Linked DNA regions of Homo sapiens: region 1 is linked to region 2. A link means that fine-mapping ties the variant in region 2 to the expression of a gene that starts in the linked region. Tissue or cell type: whole blood. Region 2 holds a variant in brackets; the other region holds the start of a gene. All regions are shown on one strand. Distances are between the middles of the regions.

What was found. PIP is the estimated chance that this variant, and not a neighbour inherited with it, causes the effect.
Region 1: TUNAR starts here. The variant in region 2 is fine-mapped to the expression of TUNAR in whole blood (TOPMed, PIP above 0.99).

The regions. Positions count from the first base shown.
Region 1 is chr14:95,871,996-95,880,099 of GRCh38, forward strand. It overlaps TUNAR (transmembrane neural differentiation associated intracellular calcium regulator), which reads left to right and starts at 4,837. Exons shown (of 2, transcript NM_001416131.1): 1 at 4,837-5,182. The coding sequence starts at 5,171.
Region 2 is chr14:95,749,043-95,757,146 of GRCh38, forward strand. LOC107984703 (a long non-coding RNA gene) reads left to right here. Exons shown (of 3, transcript NR_148060.1): 3 at 6,203-7,737. Among named protein-coding and RNA genes, the nearest start is that of TCL1A, 39 kb to the left of the region's middle. The variant A/G (reference allele first, on the strand shown) is at 4,804.

The sequences.
Region 1 (8,104 bases), 120 kb after region 2:
CGCGGTGAAACCCCGTCTCTACTAAAAATACAAAAAATTAGCCGGGCGTGGTGGCGGGCGCCTGTAGTCCCAGCTACTCGGGAGCTGAGGCAGGAGAATGGCGTGAACCTGGGAGGCGGAGCTTGCAGTGAGCCGAGATCATGCCACTGCACTCCAGCCTAGGTGACAGAGCGAGACTCCATCTCAAAAAAAAAAAAAAAAAAAAAATTAGCAGGACCAGACCACCCAGGAGGAAGTCCCAGGTTCAAGTCACAGGGTCCGTCAGGTATCAGCTTGGAGACTGAGGAATCCTCCAGATCAAACCCCCATGTACATGATAAGAGCCAATGAAATGTGGGAAATGAGACGTTTTGAAAACCTCAGAGCACTGTAAAAAAATAAAAAGTCATTAACAGTAGAGATACTAATTTTTAGAAAGGAAGGATGCTTCCAATCTTTCCTGAGCCATTTCTAAGGAAGTCCTTTCTCTCTCTTGGGTCCTACTACCCCCAACCCAATATCATACACCTGTCTGACTGCACTTCACACAGTGTTTCTTCTCTAAAAGGAACAATTAGGTTTGACCTTTCTCAGTGGGCTCTAATTTTTCAGTATTCGAAAGTCTTTGCAAGTGCTGCTCCTGGACTTGAAATATTTCTGCTCCCCAACCCCCAAACCATTTCCCTTTCATTTGATTGACTCCCACTTATCTTTCAGACTCATTTTAGAAGTCCCCCTCACCCCAGGAAGGCTTCCTCAATCTCCTAGATCCAAGGAAGGGCCTCTCTTTTGTGCAACCACATGACCTAATAAGTGCTCAATTAACACTTATTAAATGAATGACTGCACAAATGAATGAATAGATTGTGGATGCAATAGGCCAATATCTGCAAAAAGCTGGAAACAGATGTACTATTTATGTGTCTCATGCAAACATTACACTCACTACCGATTGCCAAGCCCTCTCACACAGAGGGACTGGTGAAGTATACTGTGTGCCTTGCCACGTCCCTGCAAAGTGTGGAGGCTGGTAGGGATCAGGACCCCACCGTCCTTATGAATGATGGGAGGAGACTCAGTCAAGCACAGCCACTAAGTCTTGGCTTGGGTAGCTGTCTGGAGGCTGGATCCTCTTACAGCTACCTGCTCCACTGTCTCACACTCACCACCCCATAGGCCAGACTCAGCAGATGGCCTTGCCTGCTTCTTCAGGGAGGAAACCAGCACTAACAGGAGGCATGGGCTCCCCTAGCTCCCTCTCTACTTGCCTCCCTGAGAGCTCAAAAGAAGGGCAGTCCCTGCACTTTTGAGACTTTTCTTCCACCTGTGTCTTTCAGCATCCCTAGGACTTGCTCCATGTCTTCAACTTCTTGTCTACCTGCCTTGGGTCTCTCTCAGCTCCTGCACACAAGAGCTGCTTGTTACCAGCTCTGGGATTTCCCCTGCGTATTCCTCCTGATTAGCTTGTTCTTGCTTCTGCCTTATCACCTGGCCAATATTTACGGATCCTTGGGGACCCAATTCAGATGCCACCTCCTCTGGGCAGCCAGCTGCAGTCCCTGCAGATAGGTATAGTCACTTTCCTCTATGCCTCCAAGAATAGTATTTGGTAACCTCTATAAGATAGGGCATAAAAATTCACACAACAACTATGAGGGTCTAGCGATGATAATAACTATCTTTTTATCAATAGCTCACTCTGTTCCAGGAACTATGCTGGAGACTCCACGCACACATCTCATTGGCAGTCCTAAGTCTCAAGCAGCCACTACCTATGTTACTATTGTTCTTTTTTTCCTTTAGCCTGGCAGACAGTATAGGAAGTTAGGAACTTGGGCTTGGGGTTAGGAAGACTGGGTTACAAATCCCCAAGTCCATCATTTGCCAGCTTCATGACTTTAGGGAACTTACATAACCTTTTTGAGCTTCCCTTCCCAAGCAAAGATAATGGACCCACTTTACAGGGTTTGGTGAGGTTAAAATGAGCTTTCCTAGATAAAACTCTTGGTACCTGGAGTTCCTGGCATGGGTTAAGCCCTCAGTAAAAGCCCCTATGAGGACCCAGAAGACAGAGGACTTATGTAAGTCATTTTTGCATCCCTGGTGCCTAACACTGTGCCTGACTTCAGTAGATACTCCTTACAAATTTAGGGTGATGTTCTTCCACTGCATTGCTGAGGAACAATCCCTGTGTGGCCACAGGGATCATGGGCTTCCTCAATCCTGGCTTTCCTGTGCACTCCCCACTTCCTATTATTTGAGAAAAACATGAAGAATGAATATGCAATGTAGGAGTCTTCCCTGCTGCCTTTTTCCCCATGCATACACACACCAATAAAAGATGTATGTGCCAGCTTTTGCTATGCTTAAACAACATTTTTCAAATCTCTGCAAACCATGAATGAGACACTTGTGCCGTCAAATCGCACTTCCTTACAGGCTGCTTTGTTTCCTGGAATAGTGGGACGCATGGAATCCAAGCTCTGAGGTTTCATTTATTGTAAGCACTGGGCTCCCTGACCAAATTAGGTGTCAAACTCTACCTGCAGATTGGGAAATTGGGGCTGAAGAAAGAGCCGGCAGCCAATTTGGCACACAGAAATAGTTCTTCTGGAGTTTCTGGGGACCACCTCCCTGTCTGCAACTACCCATAATAACTGGTTGGGAAATTCAGAGATATTGCTCCCAATTTCGCCGGAAAATGTTGGAATGCAACTGTTATACACAGGCTGGGATGCAAAGTGCTTTTCTCAGAAAAGTGTGGCCTTTGGACCCTGGTTTCTTAAGACACAGGTTTCTGTTTCCATGGACTTGCAGGGTTTTTCAATAGGAGTTACTGGCATCTCAATAATAATAATAATTGGAGGAAATGTCTTGTCACTAAGCCAACAAAAACCACTCAGACTCTGCTGTTTCCCAAAGCCCCTCATGGAGGGACTCTGTCCTGTAGAGCTGCAGGGCTGGGGTGTGGGTGTTCCTGGGCAGGCCTGATTCCCCTAAATCTCTGCTGAGTCTCTCCTCTGCATCTTTCTCCCCACATCCATACCATGAGGAAGACAGAAAGGCCAGCTAGGGAGGGTATGGGTTGGTGTTGTGGACGAGGTGGTAGGTGATTCCTATTCTGTAGCAGGGATGGGAGGGAAGCAGCCTTTTGGTAGGCAGGAGGATCTTCTGAGAAGTAGGGGCAGAAGGTTCCTTGCACCATCCAACTGGGGAAGGGGCACAGCGGTGGGCCCTGGGAACCTGCTAACCAGGATGTCTGGGTTCTTCCCCCAGCTCTGCTTCTGAGGCACCCAGCAGACCTGGGCAATTTGCCTCCTCGTCGATAGAGACCATGGTCGCTGCTTGCTCTGACCATGTTTCCCGGCACTTGCCTTACTTCCCTGGACGTTGGGGTGGATTTTGGTGAGGTCCCAGAGAACCAGGAGACAGGCTGCTTATCTTCTAGAAAATCATGTTCACATTCATGGAAGGCCTTAGGTACTAGTACTTAGCTATGACCTTTGGAGACAAGGACTCCATCTTCCTGAAGACGTTAAAATGTCCTGTGTACTGAAAGCAATTGGAGGGGCCTGGATTTGAACCCCAGTCTGTGTCAGAGGTCCCAAGTCTTCCAAGAAAGTGGAAGGCGCCCCGAGGCAGGTTAGAGGGCCTACAAGGCGGGCAACTGGACATGGGGATGGGCTGGGGAGGCGCCAAAGGGCGGCAGGGATTGGGGGTATAGTGGTTTGACCACGACTTAACTACCTTCAGCTGCCAGGCCATCCGCCTGTTCCCTGGAAGATATAAGGAGCTGGGAGTGGGGAACGGAGCAACCTGGGCTTCCATGATGAAGAAAGAGACAGCGCAGGAGCAAAATGTCCAGGAAGGAGGGAGAGAGACCAGAGGAAGGAGGAGGCGCCTCTTTCACCCGCGTCCCCAGGTCCCCATGTACGCCACGTGGGTGGGAGCGTGTCCCACACACCCGCGCGCCCAAAGCCACATTCGCCACGCTCCCGCCGGGGCGGGCTCACCGCGCGCCTCTGGGTGCCGAGCCTCCACAGGCCACATAGCCGCCACCTGCTGCTGCATCCCCACTGCGGGGACAGGGGCACTCAGTGCCTCCCTCCGTCCCCCCCGCCCCGCGAAGGCCTCCCATCCTCCAGGGCCAGGCGGAGGCCACGTCTTTCCCGGGCCCCCTCCCCAACGCGGAGAGGGAAGCGGAGGGAGGAGCTTGGCCCGCAGCCGCCGGCCCTCCCCGCACTGGAGCTCCCCCTCCCCTCCCTCCCCGCCCCTCGGCTGCCGCAGCCCGGCTCGCAGCGCGCGTCAGCGGGGGCTCCCCGGAGCGAGTCGCTAGGTAACGGGGCTGGCTCCGCAGACGCGGGGCCGGGGAAGCCCGCGCGCGTCATCAGCAGCGGCGCCGCGGGGCGGGGGGCGCAGAGACCCTCCCCAATCCCGGCCTGCCACCACCTGGCTCGCGCGCAGCCCCGGCCCAGAATGCCTTAACCTGCGCCGATTGCTGCCGCCGAGGTGCCCCTCCCCTGTAGGGACCCCGACGCCGCCAGCCCCTTCCTCCTTTCCCGCAGGTGCGCACTGCTGTGCTTGCGGCCGGGTGGGCGCCCCGCCGCTGCGGTCGCGGTCGCCGCTGGTAAGCTGCGCTCTGGGGCTTGGGGCAGGAAGCAGTGGGGGGCGCTCGAAGAGCAGGGCAGCTACGGCCACCGTGGCCGCCGGACCGGCCATGTGCTAAAGTTTCTGGGGCTCGGCGCCCCGCTGGGCGCGCAGCGCGGGGAGCAGACGCGCCGTGGGTGGGGCAGCGCGGTGCTGCTGGCGCCCGGCCCCCGCGGGGTGCAGCTCTGCGCGTTCTCATGCTGTCTCTCTCTCTTTCCCTCCGCGCTGCCTCTCCGAGGTCCTCCCGCCGAGCCCCGGCGCGGGGCATGAGGAGCCCCCGGGTGCCGCCCAGAGACCAGCAGGCTGCGCGCACACCTAGCCAGCGGCAGACGGGGACATGAGCAGCGCGCACGGGGTCCCGCGCCCGGCGGCCAGCCCTATCCGGCGGCGGCCAGCGGGTCAACGCTGCCCGGGAGAATGAGGCAGGAGCCGGCGGCAGCCTCCTTTTTTTCCTTCTCCTCGCCTTCCTGCGGCTCCGGCGCTCCGGGTCCGGGCCGGGCTGCGGCTCTGCTGCGTGCCCCGCGCGCCCCTCAACCGCCTCCGGATGCGCTTCTCGGTAAGCCAGGCCCTCCGCCTCGCGAACAAAGCTCCCTTCGCAGGGCCCGGAGGCCGCCTCAGGGCCCCTGTCCTACCCTCCTTCCCCACTTACAGCCTGGAAACATTCGGGGCTTCCGATTGAATCGTTCAATTTCCCCTGCCCCGAAGCCCCGCCTGGAGGCTGAACTGCCCGGGCAGACCTGGTGCTTTCTTCTGCCTTCTGGAGAAAGATGTGGGTTTGACATGCAGGCGGGAGACCTGTCTGGTCTAGATAACGGCATGTGTATGCAGCTAGGTTCAGACTTAGCATTTGGGGGCAACAACTCTTATTTAGTGGGTGTCCAGGCCGTGCCGGGCAGTGTGCCTCAAAGCCGCTCTGGGAAATAGGTCCCCGTTTCTCCTTGGCCCAGATGAGGAAACTGAGGCTTAGAGAGGTTGAATGACTTAATCAAGGTCACAAGGTTAGGAAGTGGGAGACCAGGATTGGAAACCAGGGTACCCTACTTCCCTGCCAGACTGTTCCCTTTGTAACAAACACACCTGTCTCATTTCTTCTACTAACTGCTTCCGTCTCGAGAGTCATTGCGTGTGTGTGAAAATACTTGCTCCAATGAGTATCTGTTCTGATGAAATAAATTGCCTGTAGCAAGCACTTTTTGTCCATCCTGCCATCACGCTGCTGCCAACCCCTAATGTGTACTCTACTTTTTAGTTCAGGTGAGAGGATAATATGTTTTCCTAGGTGTTCTCTTTCCTGGGGTTCTGTTTTCCCAGTCCTCCTGAAGGATGGAAAGGACAGTGGTTCCTCCTGTGTGCCCAGCACATGCTAGGCCTCAGAACTGCATCCTTAACCTTTCCCTGGGGGCAGGGCTCATCAAGGTTACCTGCCCCTGGTTTTGTAAATCTTGGAGATGATTACTTAACCGGAGCGGGGGCTGATCCCAGATGGCCACTGTGCAGGGGCTGGCCCAGTGTTGGCTCATATTTGCCAGCCCTCAGTGTCAGCAGAACTTCTGAGCCCCAAACACTTCTGAGCCCCAAAGAAAAGGAGTTTTAATGCAGATACGATGCCTGATGCATGCCCCCAGTTCTCTGGCTTGCCGCTGTTAGCTGTTTGCTTAAGTGCATTTAGTTAACTGTTTGCTTAAGTGCATTTAGTTAACTGTTTGCTTAAGTGCATTTAGTTCCTGAAGGGGCAAGCCACCTGGAATCAATTGATCCTGGTCTGAGGGGCTTGTTCCATTGGTGAAGTCACAGTGTTGAGCTCAGTTGTCTACACGTACATTTGTGTTGGTGCAGAGAAAGTCCCTTAGCAGTAGGGGCCTCTGTGTCTCTGTTAGTAAAGAGCAAGGGTGGACTGACCAGCCCTTCAGACCCCCTTCAGCTAAATGATTCTGAGTGACAAAACTAGTAAGTTACAGGCTTGAGCTAGGATGTCTTAGTCCAGTCATTTGGACGAACATTCTACACTGAATGGGTTGTTGATTTCCAAGAAGAGGACTTGGTTTCCAGGGAGCTGTGAGATTCAGGTTCAGCCCAAAAGAGGTGAAGCTCGAGCTGTGCTTAATAGATTATTTACTGGGCTAACACATAGTGGCTATAAAATGTTCCAAGCTACCAGATTGGGGTTGTGGGATAGGTTAGGCCTTTCAGTAGGAGAGATGACATTAGCTCCTAAGAACTGATGACATACAATGCATTAAGAAGATGCCCAGCAGGCTAGAAAGCAGCAAGCTGGTGAGCTTTTCCTGCCCCTCCAAAAATAATCAATCATATTTGCATAGGTAAAACATTCCCAGCACAAACAATTACTGCAAATAAATAAAGTGATTTTTTTTTTAGACTCTTCCAACTGCATTGTTTGCTGAGTATATTAGCGATGCGTGGAGCCGGCCTTAGCTTGGCTGCAGAGGGGCTGGGACAGGGAAGGTGGGCTGAAGGATGTTCAGACCCTGAGTTAGTTTTTGGCTGTGGATTAGAGCTAAATCCATCACTTTGACCTATGGGTCGTTAATGGGGTTGTCATTGGTCTTTTTAAGATGTGGATTAATGAACCTCTTAAAGTGTTGCCGAATCCCAAATGAAACGGGCATGTCCCACCTTTTTCCCAGAAACTCGGCTCTCAGCGGGTTTTGTGACTGTTTGAAATTCACAAAACCAGAGCAAAGCTTTCATTTTTGACAGGCTCATAGGGATCTGCAAAGGAAAAATAATGCATCTTATGTAGGGATATTAATCTCCCAGCATTGTGTGTTTTAGCTTCTCATGATTAACTGGTAAGGTTTTGAATAAAAATGAATGCAGAGAAACAATCTTCATTAAGTTGCTTTTGAAAATGCTGAGGTAATTATGAAATAACGATTTTTGTGTCATAGATCATACTACTCATAGCCAAAGCTGGATTACATCACAAAACATTACTCTTGTTACTGATATTTATTTTTTAATTCATTAGTTTTCTCATATTTTTTGCCTTTTTTCTCCCCGTGTGAAAATAAGCCATCGAGAATAAATTCTTCCTTTTCAGTTTTTCTTTGTCTTAAATCCAGTTTTTTTTTTTCTGTAAGATCTCTAAGCTGAACTCTTCCACACCATACATATAATGGCCTCATGTTAAAATATGTTTTAAGTGCCTTGGATTTCTTTTGGGAGAACAAGAGGGTTATGTATCGTAAGTAAATAACAGTGATGAGACATTTCCCTTGTTTGCTTACTCTTCTAAGTCAGGGCTTGAGACCATGCCCTCATGATTGCAGCTGCCACACTTAGCATCATGGGGACACAGCCTGAGTGCTGTGGCATTTCTGCATCAGTGAGGATGCACACCTGGACTGATCGGAGTGTGAGGAAAACAACAGCTTCCGTAGGCCAGGAAACCTGGGGTTTATTCCCGACTCAGTTGTTCATTGGCTTTGTGGCCTTGGGCAAATTATTTCCATTT
Region 2 (8,104 bases):
TGAAAAGCCATTTTTAAAAAAACCGCTTTGGTAAACACTGCTTATGGGCAATCCAGGGTCTTTGAAAGGTCTTAAAGAAGAGAGTGATTCTATAGGATTTATCTTTAACAGTGTGGAGAATGGATTTGAAGGAAACAAGGCTGTGTATAGGAGACCAGTGAAGCAAGGGTTACAGGAATTCAGGGGAGAGATGCTAAGGATACACAGAGCACTAGGAGATATTAGGAAGTAAGCAGTTTCAGAGACATTTAGGACATAAAACAATCAGAACCTGGAAATCTATTGGATGTGATGAGTGAGGGAAGGAAGAGTCAAGGATGACTTCCAGGTTAAATCAGGTTGATGGTCATGTCATCAACTAAGAGAAAGAGCACTTTGATATGTTGACTTTGAGGAGTCAATGGTATGTCAAGGAATAGATCAGGTATGCAGATAGATTTGAGTCTGGCTCATGGAAGAAGTTCGGGTTGATGATACAGTCTTTGGAGTTGTCTGTATTTAGTTGGTGATTTGAATAAGAGCCCCCAGACAAGCGTATGTGTAAAGTTAAAAGAGTCATGGTCTACTACTAAAACGTTAAGGAATAACTTCAAGGGGCAGAAAGAGGAGGAGGTACCTATGAAGAATTTTGAGAAAGAATGAAAGTGGTATGAGATAAACCAGAAGCTGTTGCTCCATAGAAGTCATGGTGGTAGGAGATTTAAGAAAAGTACAGTGACTCACAGAGTCAAATCTAAGAGACAGGCATAGTGAGATGAGGCATGGAGGAAGGATGTGGCCATTGGCTGTTGGAAGCTCCCTGATACCTTTCTGAGAGTGGTTCCAGGAGGGCAGTGGGAAGGAAGGCTGATTTTAATGGGCTTGGAAGTGAATGGAAGTCAGTGAATGTCATGGAAGGCAAGTCCTTTGACAAGTTGGGAAGAGAAAAATATGAGAGATGGGATGACAACTGAAGTGAGAAAGATCTAAGTATGGAGCCAGTGAAGAAGGGGAGGCTGAGGTGCAGGAAAAGACGGGACAATTTATGGAACAACAAGAGCAAAGATGGAATTAGAGAGTTGAAAAAGGACAAGTGGAAGGTTTTGACAACAGAGTAGGGAGCCCAACTGAGGAAAGACCATTAATTTTAGTATATTTGATCAATGTAGTTGCATGATTTTCCTCATGCTTGGCAATCTAGCATAGAAATAGAGAAGGTGGGGCACTGCATTGATGGAGTGATGGAGTTTCATCAGCTGGTTGCAGGGCACAAGAGAGGAGCAAGGGAATTAAGGATGTTGGTGAAAGAATGGCTTAGAAAGTCCATGTGGAGTAAAAGCACCAGAGGGATGAAAAATGGGCACAAACAATCCCAAAGACTGGGAGAAAAAGGACAGGCTGAAGGGGGAAGAGTGCTGATAAGGCCAATATGAAATAAAGTCTTGAGAAGATGGGATAGTTAGATCAGAGTATCTAATACTAGACATTATGACTTCAGAGGGAGGAAGGTCCCAGGGATGAGGAAGTAAAGGAAGTGGCTCAGAGAATAGATACTGAAAGGTCAATGAATTGGAGGCATAGGTGTTGCAGGGCCTGCTGCAGGGATGATGAGGCTAGAATAGATGACTTCCAAGGCCCCCGCTGGGTTTGCGATATAATGTGCTGGAAGGTGTCAGCCAGCATCTCCAGTGCTTGAGGTATACCTCCACCTACTCACTCAACATCTCACCCAGATGTCACACAATCACCGTGAACTCAACTGGACAAAAATTGATTTCATTGCATTGTCCCTGAAGCCTGCTTCCCTTCCTGTGCTCCCTCTCCCAGTTAATGGCCCACCACCTATTCAATAACTCAAGTCAGAAATCTCCCCAACACAAGCCTCATCATTTCTATCTTTGATATATCTCACAGTCCAGTGCTCTCCTCTTCGTGTCTCCCCAATACTATTACCACTTCACCCTCATGGGCCTCTGCTCTGTTACAGTAACTGCAGCCTGCCTGGTTTTCCTACCATGGAAAGCTGCCCCCACTCCCTCCATTCTGCCTTCAAGGTGCTCCTACAGTGATTCCCTTAAACTGTTACTCAGAGCATACCATTTTTCTGCTCAACAACAGAAGTTCGAACCCTTAACCAAGCATTCTATGCCCTTCAGTATCTGCTTCCAACCTCATTTCCAGCTTCATTGTCTGTATCTTCTATTCACACATCTTCAAGTTCCAGCCGAAGGAGTCTATCTCCTGTCCATGGCTTCTGAGTGTTCTAACTCTTTTTCTTTCTTCAGGCTGTTACTTCTGCCTAGAAAGTCTTCTACCTCCCCCAGTATGCCCTTTAAAATCCCACCCCCTTTTTTAGGACCAGTTCAAATGTCACCCCTTCCATTAATCTAATCTCCGTTTGCCTCTCTCCAACTAAAAGTAATATGCTCCTTTTGTACATTCGCAAAGGATTTTAATGAAACTTCATACAGTTACAGCATTTTGTCTGGGCTTCTGGTCAATGCCATGCACATCTCACCTGCCCTGTAACGCTGGGAGCAATTGGGAGTGGCAGCCAAGTCTTCATGTTTTTCCACATTGCTTCCTTTGAGGTAATGGGGGGCCTGTAGTTAGAGCCAAGTGGGAATCTCAGCTTCACCGCTTGGAAGCTGTGTGACTTGAGTACGTTTCTGAACCACTCTGAGTTTTAGTTTCCTCAACCCTAAAACACGGATAATGATACTGACCTCCCAGCATTGCTGTGAGAATTAAATGAGGTAGCAAAGGCAAAGCAATGCCACTTGCCTGGCACATTGTAGGTGCTAACTAAACACCTCCTTTCCCTATGAAGTCATAGTTTTGAGTATGTGAAAAAATAAATGGAATGAAGGGAATCAGTTGTTACCTTTTGGACTCTCTTTTGGAGAGGACCTGTGGTATGGCCTGGATCTGTGTCCCCACCCAGACCTCAAGTTGAAATGCAATCCCCAGTGCTGGAGGTGGGACCCAGTGGTAGGTGATTGGATAATGGGGGCAATTTCTCCTGGTTTAACACATCCCCCTAGTGCTGTTCTTGTAATAGAGTTCCCAGGAGATCTGGTGATTTAAAGGCATATGGCACCCCCGACCTGGGCTTTTCCTTCTGCTACAGCCATGTGAGACATACCTGCTTCCTCTTTACCTTCCACCATGATTAAAAGTTTCCTGAGGCCTCCCAATAAGCCGCTATGCTTCCTGTGCAGCCTGCAGAATCATGAGGGAATTAAACCTCTTTTCTTTATAAATTACCCAGTCTTGGGTATCTTTTATAGCAATACAAGAATAGACTAATACAACCTGTTTACCAGGCAAGGGAAAGAAGCAAGGGGGTAGGACCAAAGAAGATTTCTCCTTTTTTACTTCCAGGATTTTCTTTAATGAACATCTCTTATGTTTTAAGTTAGAAAGCATTTCTATAAGTGTCTGTATATACACAAGAACATACATATAAGTATTTATATATATAAAACACTTGTAAGTTTATAAACCCTTATATGTAAGTATATATGTATACACGTTTATATATGTATATGTGTTTATATATAACATATATAAGTATATATGTGTGTTTGTAGACATATATACACACACACACATATATATATACACATATATATATACACACACATACTTATTTTATATTAGAAAAGCCTTTGTTCACTGACCATTCCAGAAATGTTTTGGGCTTGCTCTTGAGTTTTCATCTGAAGACTGCCAGCTAAGCCTGCTTTAAAATGATCGTCTCTCTGAATAGTCTTGAAGTTACCCAGATCCTCTATGGAGATCCCGCTCTCCCCTCATTTTCACATTCAATTTCCTTTCATTTTTCTCTAGGGCAACTCCTGCAATGAGAAGTTTTAATTGTTGTTCTCCACCAGGATAGGAAAGGGCACACAGAGCATGTTTAATATTTTGTTTTTCCTTTGGGAGTGGGTGATGGACGAGATGCATTCATGTGCTAATTCATCCCCAGATCATGTTGCTGCCATTCTCTTTGAGGTGGGGAGAACCATCATGCTGAGGATCCTGAGATATGCAGGGGCCACTCAAAAGCCCTAGAGAATGAGAGGTGCTGGGTGGGGATGGGGGCCAATGTGAGTCTGATGTGGGATGTAGCTGAAAGAATACTGGTGAGGAGACAGCCCCATCTGTGTTTGGTCCCAGCTCTGCTGTGTCCTTACTTTGTGACCTTAGGCAAATGCCTTATCTTTCTGGCCCTCAGCTTGGTCATTGGGAACATGAGAGCACAAACATCCATTTCCTAAGCCTCTTGGAGGGCTAAGCAAAGGTCATTAAAGACCCCAGCCAAAACCATCATTCTCAGCAAACTATTGCAAGAACAAAAAACCAAACACTGCATGTTTTCACTCATAGGTGGGAATTGAACAATGAGAACACTTGAACACAGGAAGGGGAACATCACACACCGGGGCCTGTTGTGGGGTGGGGGGACAGGGGAGGGATAGCATTAGGAGATATACCTAATGTAAATGACGAGTTAATGCAGCACACCAACGTGGCACATGTATACATATGTAACAAACCTGCACGTTGTGCATGTGTACCCTAGAACTTAAAATATGATTAAAAAAAAAAAAGGAAAGAAAAAAACTCATAAAATAAAAAACATCACAATTGTAAATAAGGACAAAAAAAAAAAAAAAAAAAAGAGAGAGACCCCAGCCACAGTTTCTATGCATGAAGTAAAGGCTCGATAGATGAAATCCCGGGCACCCATGGCTCCTCATCTGACTGGAGAATATGCCTTTTCAGAGAATGCTGACATTCACGTGACATTCAATTTCA[A/G]GGCAAGCACCTACTAGGCATGTCCAGATGATATGGACATGTCTGCCTCTGTCCTCAGGACATGACAATCTAGTGGAGCTTGGGGAAGGATGAGGAGATATTGTCAGTCCTCAAGTTCAGAAGAGTTGGCTGGACCGAGCAGGGTCCTAGGGAGTGCGTCGCAAAGGCGGCAGAAGACTCCAGAAAGCAGCAGGAACAACCCATGCCCAAGATCTGACGCCAGAGGCATAGGCTTTGTTCCTGAATATTGACATCCTTCATTCACAGATGAAGAAACAGAGGCCCGGGAAGGTTCAAGTGTCCTATCCAAAGACACAGGTTCTGCCTGACATACGGAACTCAGTAGCCACTTCTTGTATAAGTTAGAAAACTGTGATGATGCTCTTACTGCCAACTGGTCTTCAGAAGGTTTCTGGTCCTCCCCACCCTTCCACAATCCATTCTTCCTACTTGATTGCATCATTGTCCTAAGGAGCTGCCCTCATTCCTGCATGCTCTGGTGCAAAGACCTTTAATGGACTCCCACAGCACATGCGAGTCCTGGGGACAAAATCCAGGGCTCTGCAAAGCCTAACTTCAACTCACCTGCCCAACCTTACCTCTGATTACAAAGTTCTTCTTGGTGGTCTCCTCCTAAGCACTCTAGGCTCTGGATTGCTATAACCTTTCATCTCACAATCCTTGTCATTTCCTTCCTCCATGCCTTTGTTTATCTTAGTACTTTTCCTCACCATTTCCTTTGTTTTGCAAGCTCCTCCTCAGCACCTCCTGCCTTTGAAGTTCTAGTTAAATGTGACCTCCTTGGAAAGAACCATGTCCTGTGCTCACAAGGCACTGCCTGTCCCTCTGGAGTTTCCCCTTCACATCTTGCCATGGAGTGGAGCCATTTGTGTTCATTACTCACTCATGAGTGAGCTCCTCAAGAATGGGAGAATGAGGCTGATTTGCCTCTGTGACCCCAACTCCCACCCAGGGTTTGGCATGGAGGAGTTGCCCAGTATGCACTTACTGAATAAATAAATAAATGAGCATAGTTCCTGTTCATCTGCCAGGAGCTTGGGGTAAACAGGGCATGGTGGGGTGGGATGGGGTGGTTGACTGGAGGAATTGAGAACATATGAGTTGCTGAGAGGAGTGGGCTACAAAGGCTAAGAAGGAGGCTGGGCTCAGACAAGGAGCTATGGTGAGAATCCGGACCAGCCTGGGAGTTGTGTGTCATAGGTGCCATGATGGAGGTGGTGGGTAGACATCATAATGCCTGTTAGCATGTAATAGATGCCTATGATGTGCCCAAACTTGTATTGGATTCATCCCATGCCTTCCTTCATTTGCTCCTTATAATAACCCTACAAAGCAGGTTTCATTATCACCATCAGTTATTATTATTCTTATTTTTCAGACAAAGAATTCAAGACTAAACTGGGCATGGTGACACGCACCTGTAGTCTCAGCTACTTGGGAGGCTGAGGCAGGAGAATCACATGAACCTGGCAGGCGGAGGTTGCAGTGAGCCGAGATTGTGCCACTGCACTCCAGCCTGGCCACAGAGCGAGACTCCGTCTCAAAAAAAAAAAAAAAAGAAAAAAAGAAAAAAGAAGAAGTCAAGACTAAGAAGAGTGAAGTATGAAGTAATTCACCCACAGACACCCAGCTAGTGAGTGGCAGACCTGGAAGACAAACTAGTTCTGTTTGGCATCAGAATCTATGCTGTCAGCCACCTCACCACATTCATGTGACATCCAACAAAGTGGTGCCTTCACCTGCTACTAAGTCTTGCTAGGGCTAGTTCCAGAGCCAAGACTATGAAGTGGACAATGATCTATGAAGCGCTAAGTGAACAGATGTCATGTAAATAGCTTGGATCTCTACGTGCATGTGTGCATTGTATATGTTTACCAAAGACCTTGTTACAGTGTTTTTAGGCATGGCTCACTTTATAAAGGTCATCACAGTTGGCCAAGCTATCTGGTATTTATTACTCATTTGATACTCACACCTGCTCAATGATGCTGGTATCATTACTCTCCATAATGATTTTCCTATCATTTTACAGATGGGGTTCAGAAAGATCAGGTGGTAGATCCATAGTCACACTCTAGTTAATTGATAGGACTGAGAATTCAATGCATGCCCACTGCCTTCTCTTACAAGTCTTGGGGTATTTGAGTGTAATTCAATAATGACAACCCCTTCACTGTCCAAAAGGGGTGAATGAAACATCAAGCTGTCACAAAGGCTAGGTTGGAGGGCATGGCTTATATCCTTGGGTAAGTAGGCTTACTAAACTTAAACCCTAAAGTTGAACTGACTTAACTACCCCGTCCCAGCAGCTGGAGTGGGACAGGACACTGGGTCTATATGGAGAGGGGTCTGCCCAGATTAGCTTTAGGACGTGGAGAAGCAGAGAACTCATGTTCCTACAAACAGGTTCACTCTCAAGATAAAGACAAGGAACCAAACTCAGCCTGCCTGCTTCATTTTTTCATATTTGCCAATCAGATAAGTCACTTCCGCCCCCAGAGAGATTTAATAAAGGAGCAGAGAAAGACTTCTAATAAAATTCCCTCCATATGGAAGGAAAAGGAGACATCGGGAGTTACGTTAATCATGCTCATTTCTTAACAGTGCAAATATCAAGAGTTAGAAATTAGAGTTCCTGGCTGGGTGCGGTGCCTCACTCCTGTAATCCTAGCACTTTGGAAGGCCAAGGCAGGTGGATTGCCGGAGCTCAGGAGTTCGAGACCAGCCTGGGCAACACGGTGAAACCTTGTCTCTACTAAAATACAAAAAAATAGCCAGGCGTGGCAGCGTGCACCTGTAATCCCAGCTACTCAGGAGGCTAAGGCAGGAGAATTGCTTGAACAAGGGAGCCAGAGGTTGCAGTGAGCTGAGATTGCACCACTGCACTCCAGCCTGGGTGACAGAGCGAGACTCTGTCTCCAAAAAAAAAAAACAAAACAGAAATAAGAGTTCCCACATGACAGCAAGAATCACTGAAAATGCTGGACCCACTGTCAATGCTGTATTGTTGCAAAGAAAATGTTTATCTTGCCTAACTTTAAAGTCACACATGCCTGGGAACTTCCAACTAGAACACAGCTGGCAAAGCAGACACCCTCTCCCTGCAGCCTCGTTGAAAATGACCTCCTTTACATTTCCTCATTGAGAATCTGCCCAGTGAGGACTGTGGCAGAAGAGAGTCAGGGAGAATTTTCTAGCTGATTAGGGTTAGAAAATGAAGACGAGGGCTCTCTTGTAATCAGCAGGAAGCTATGATAGAAAAGAATGCCTTTTAAATTTG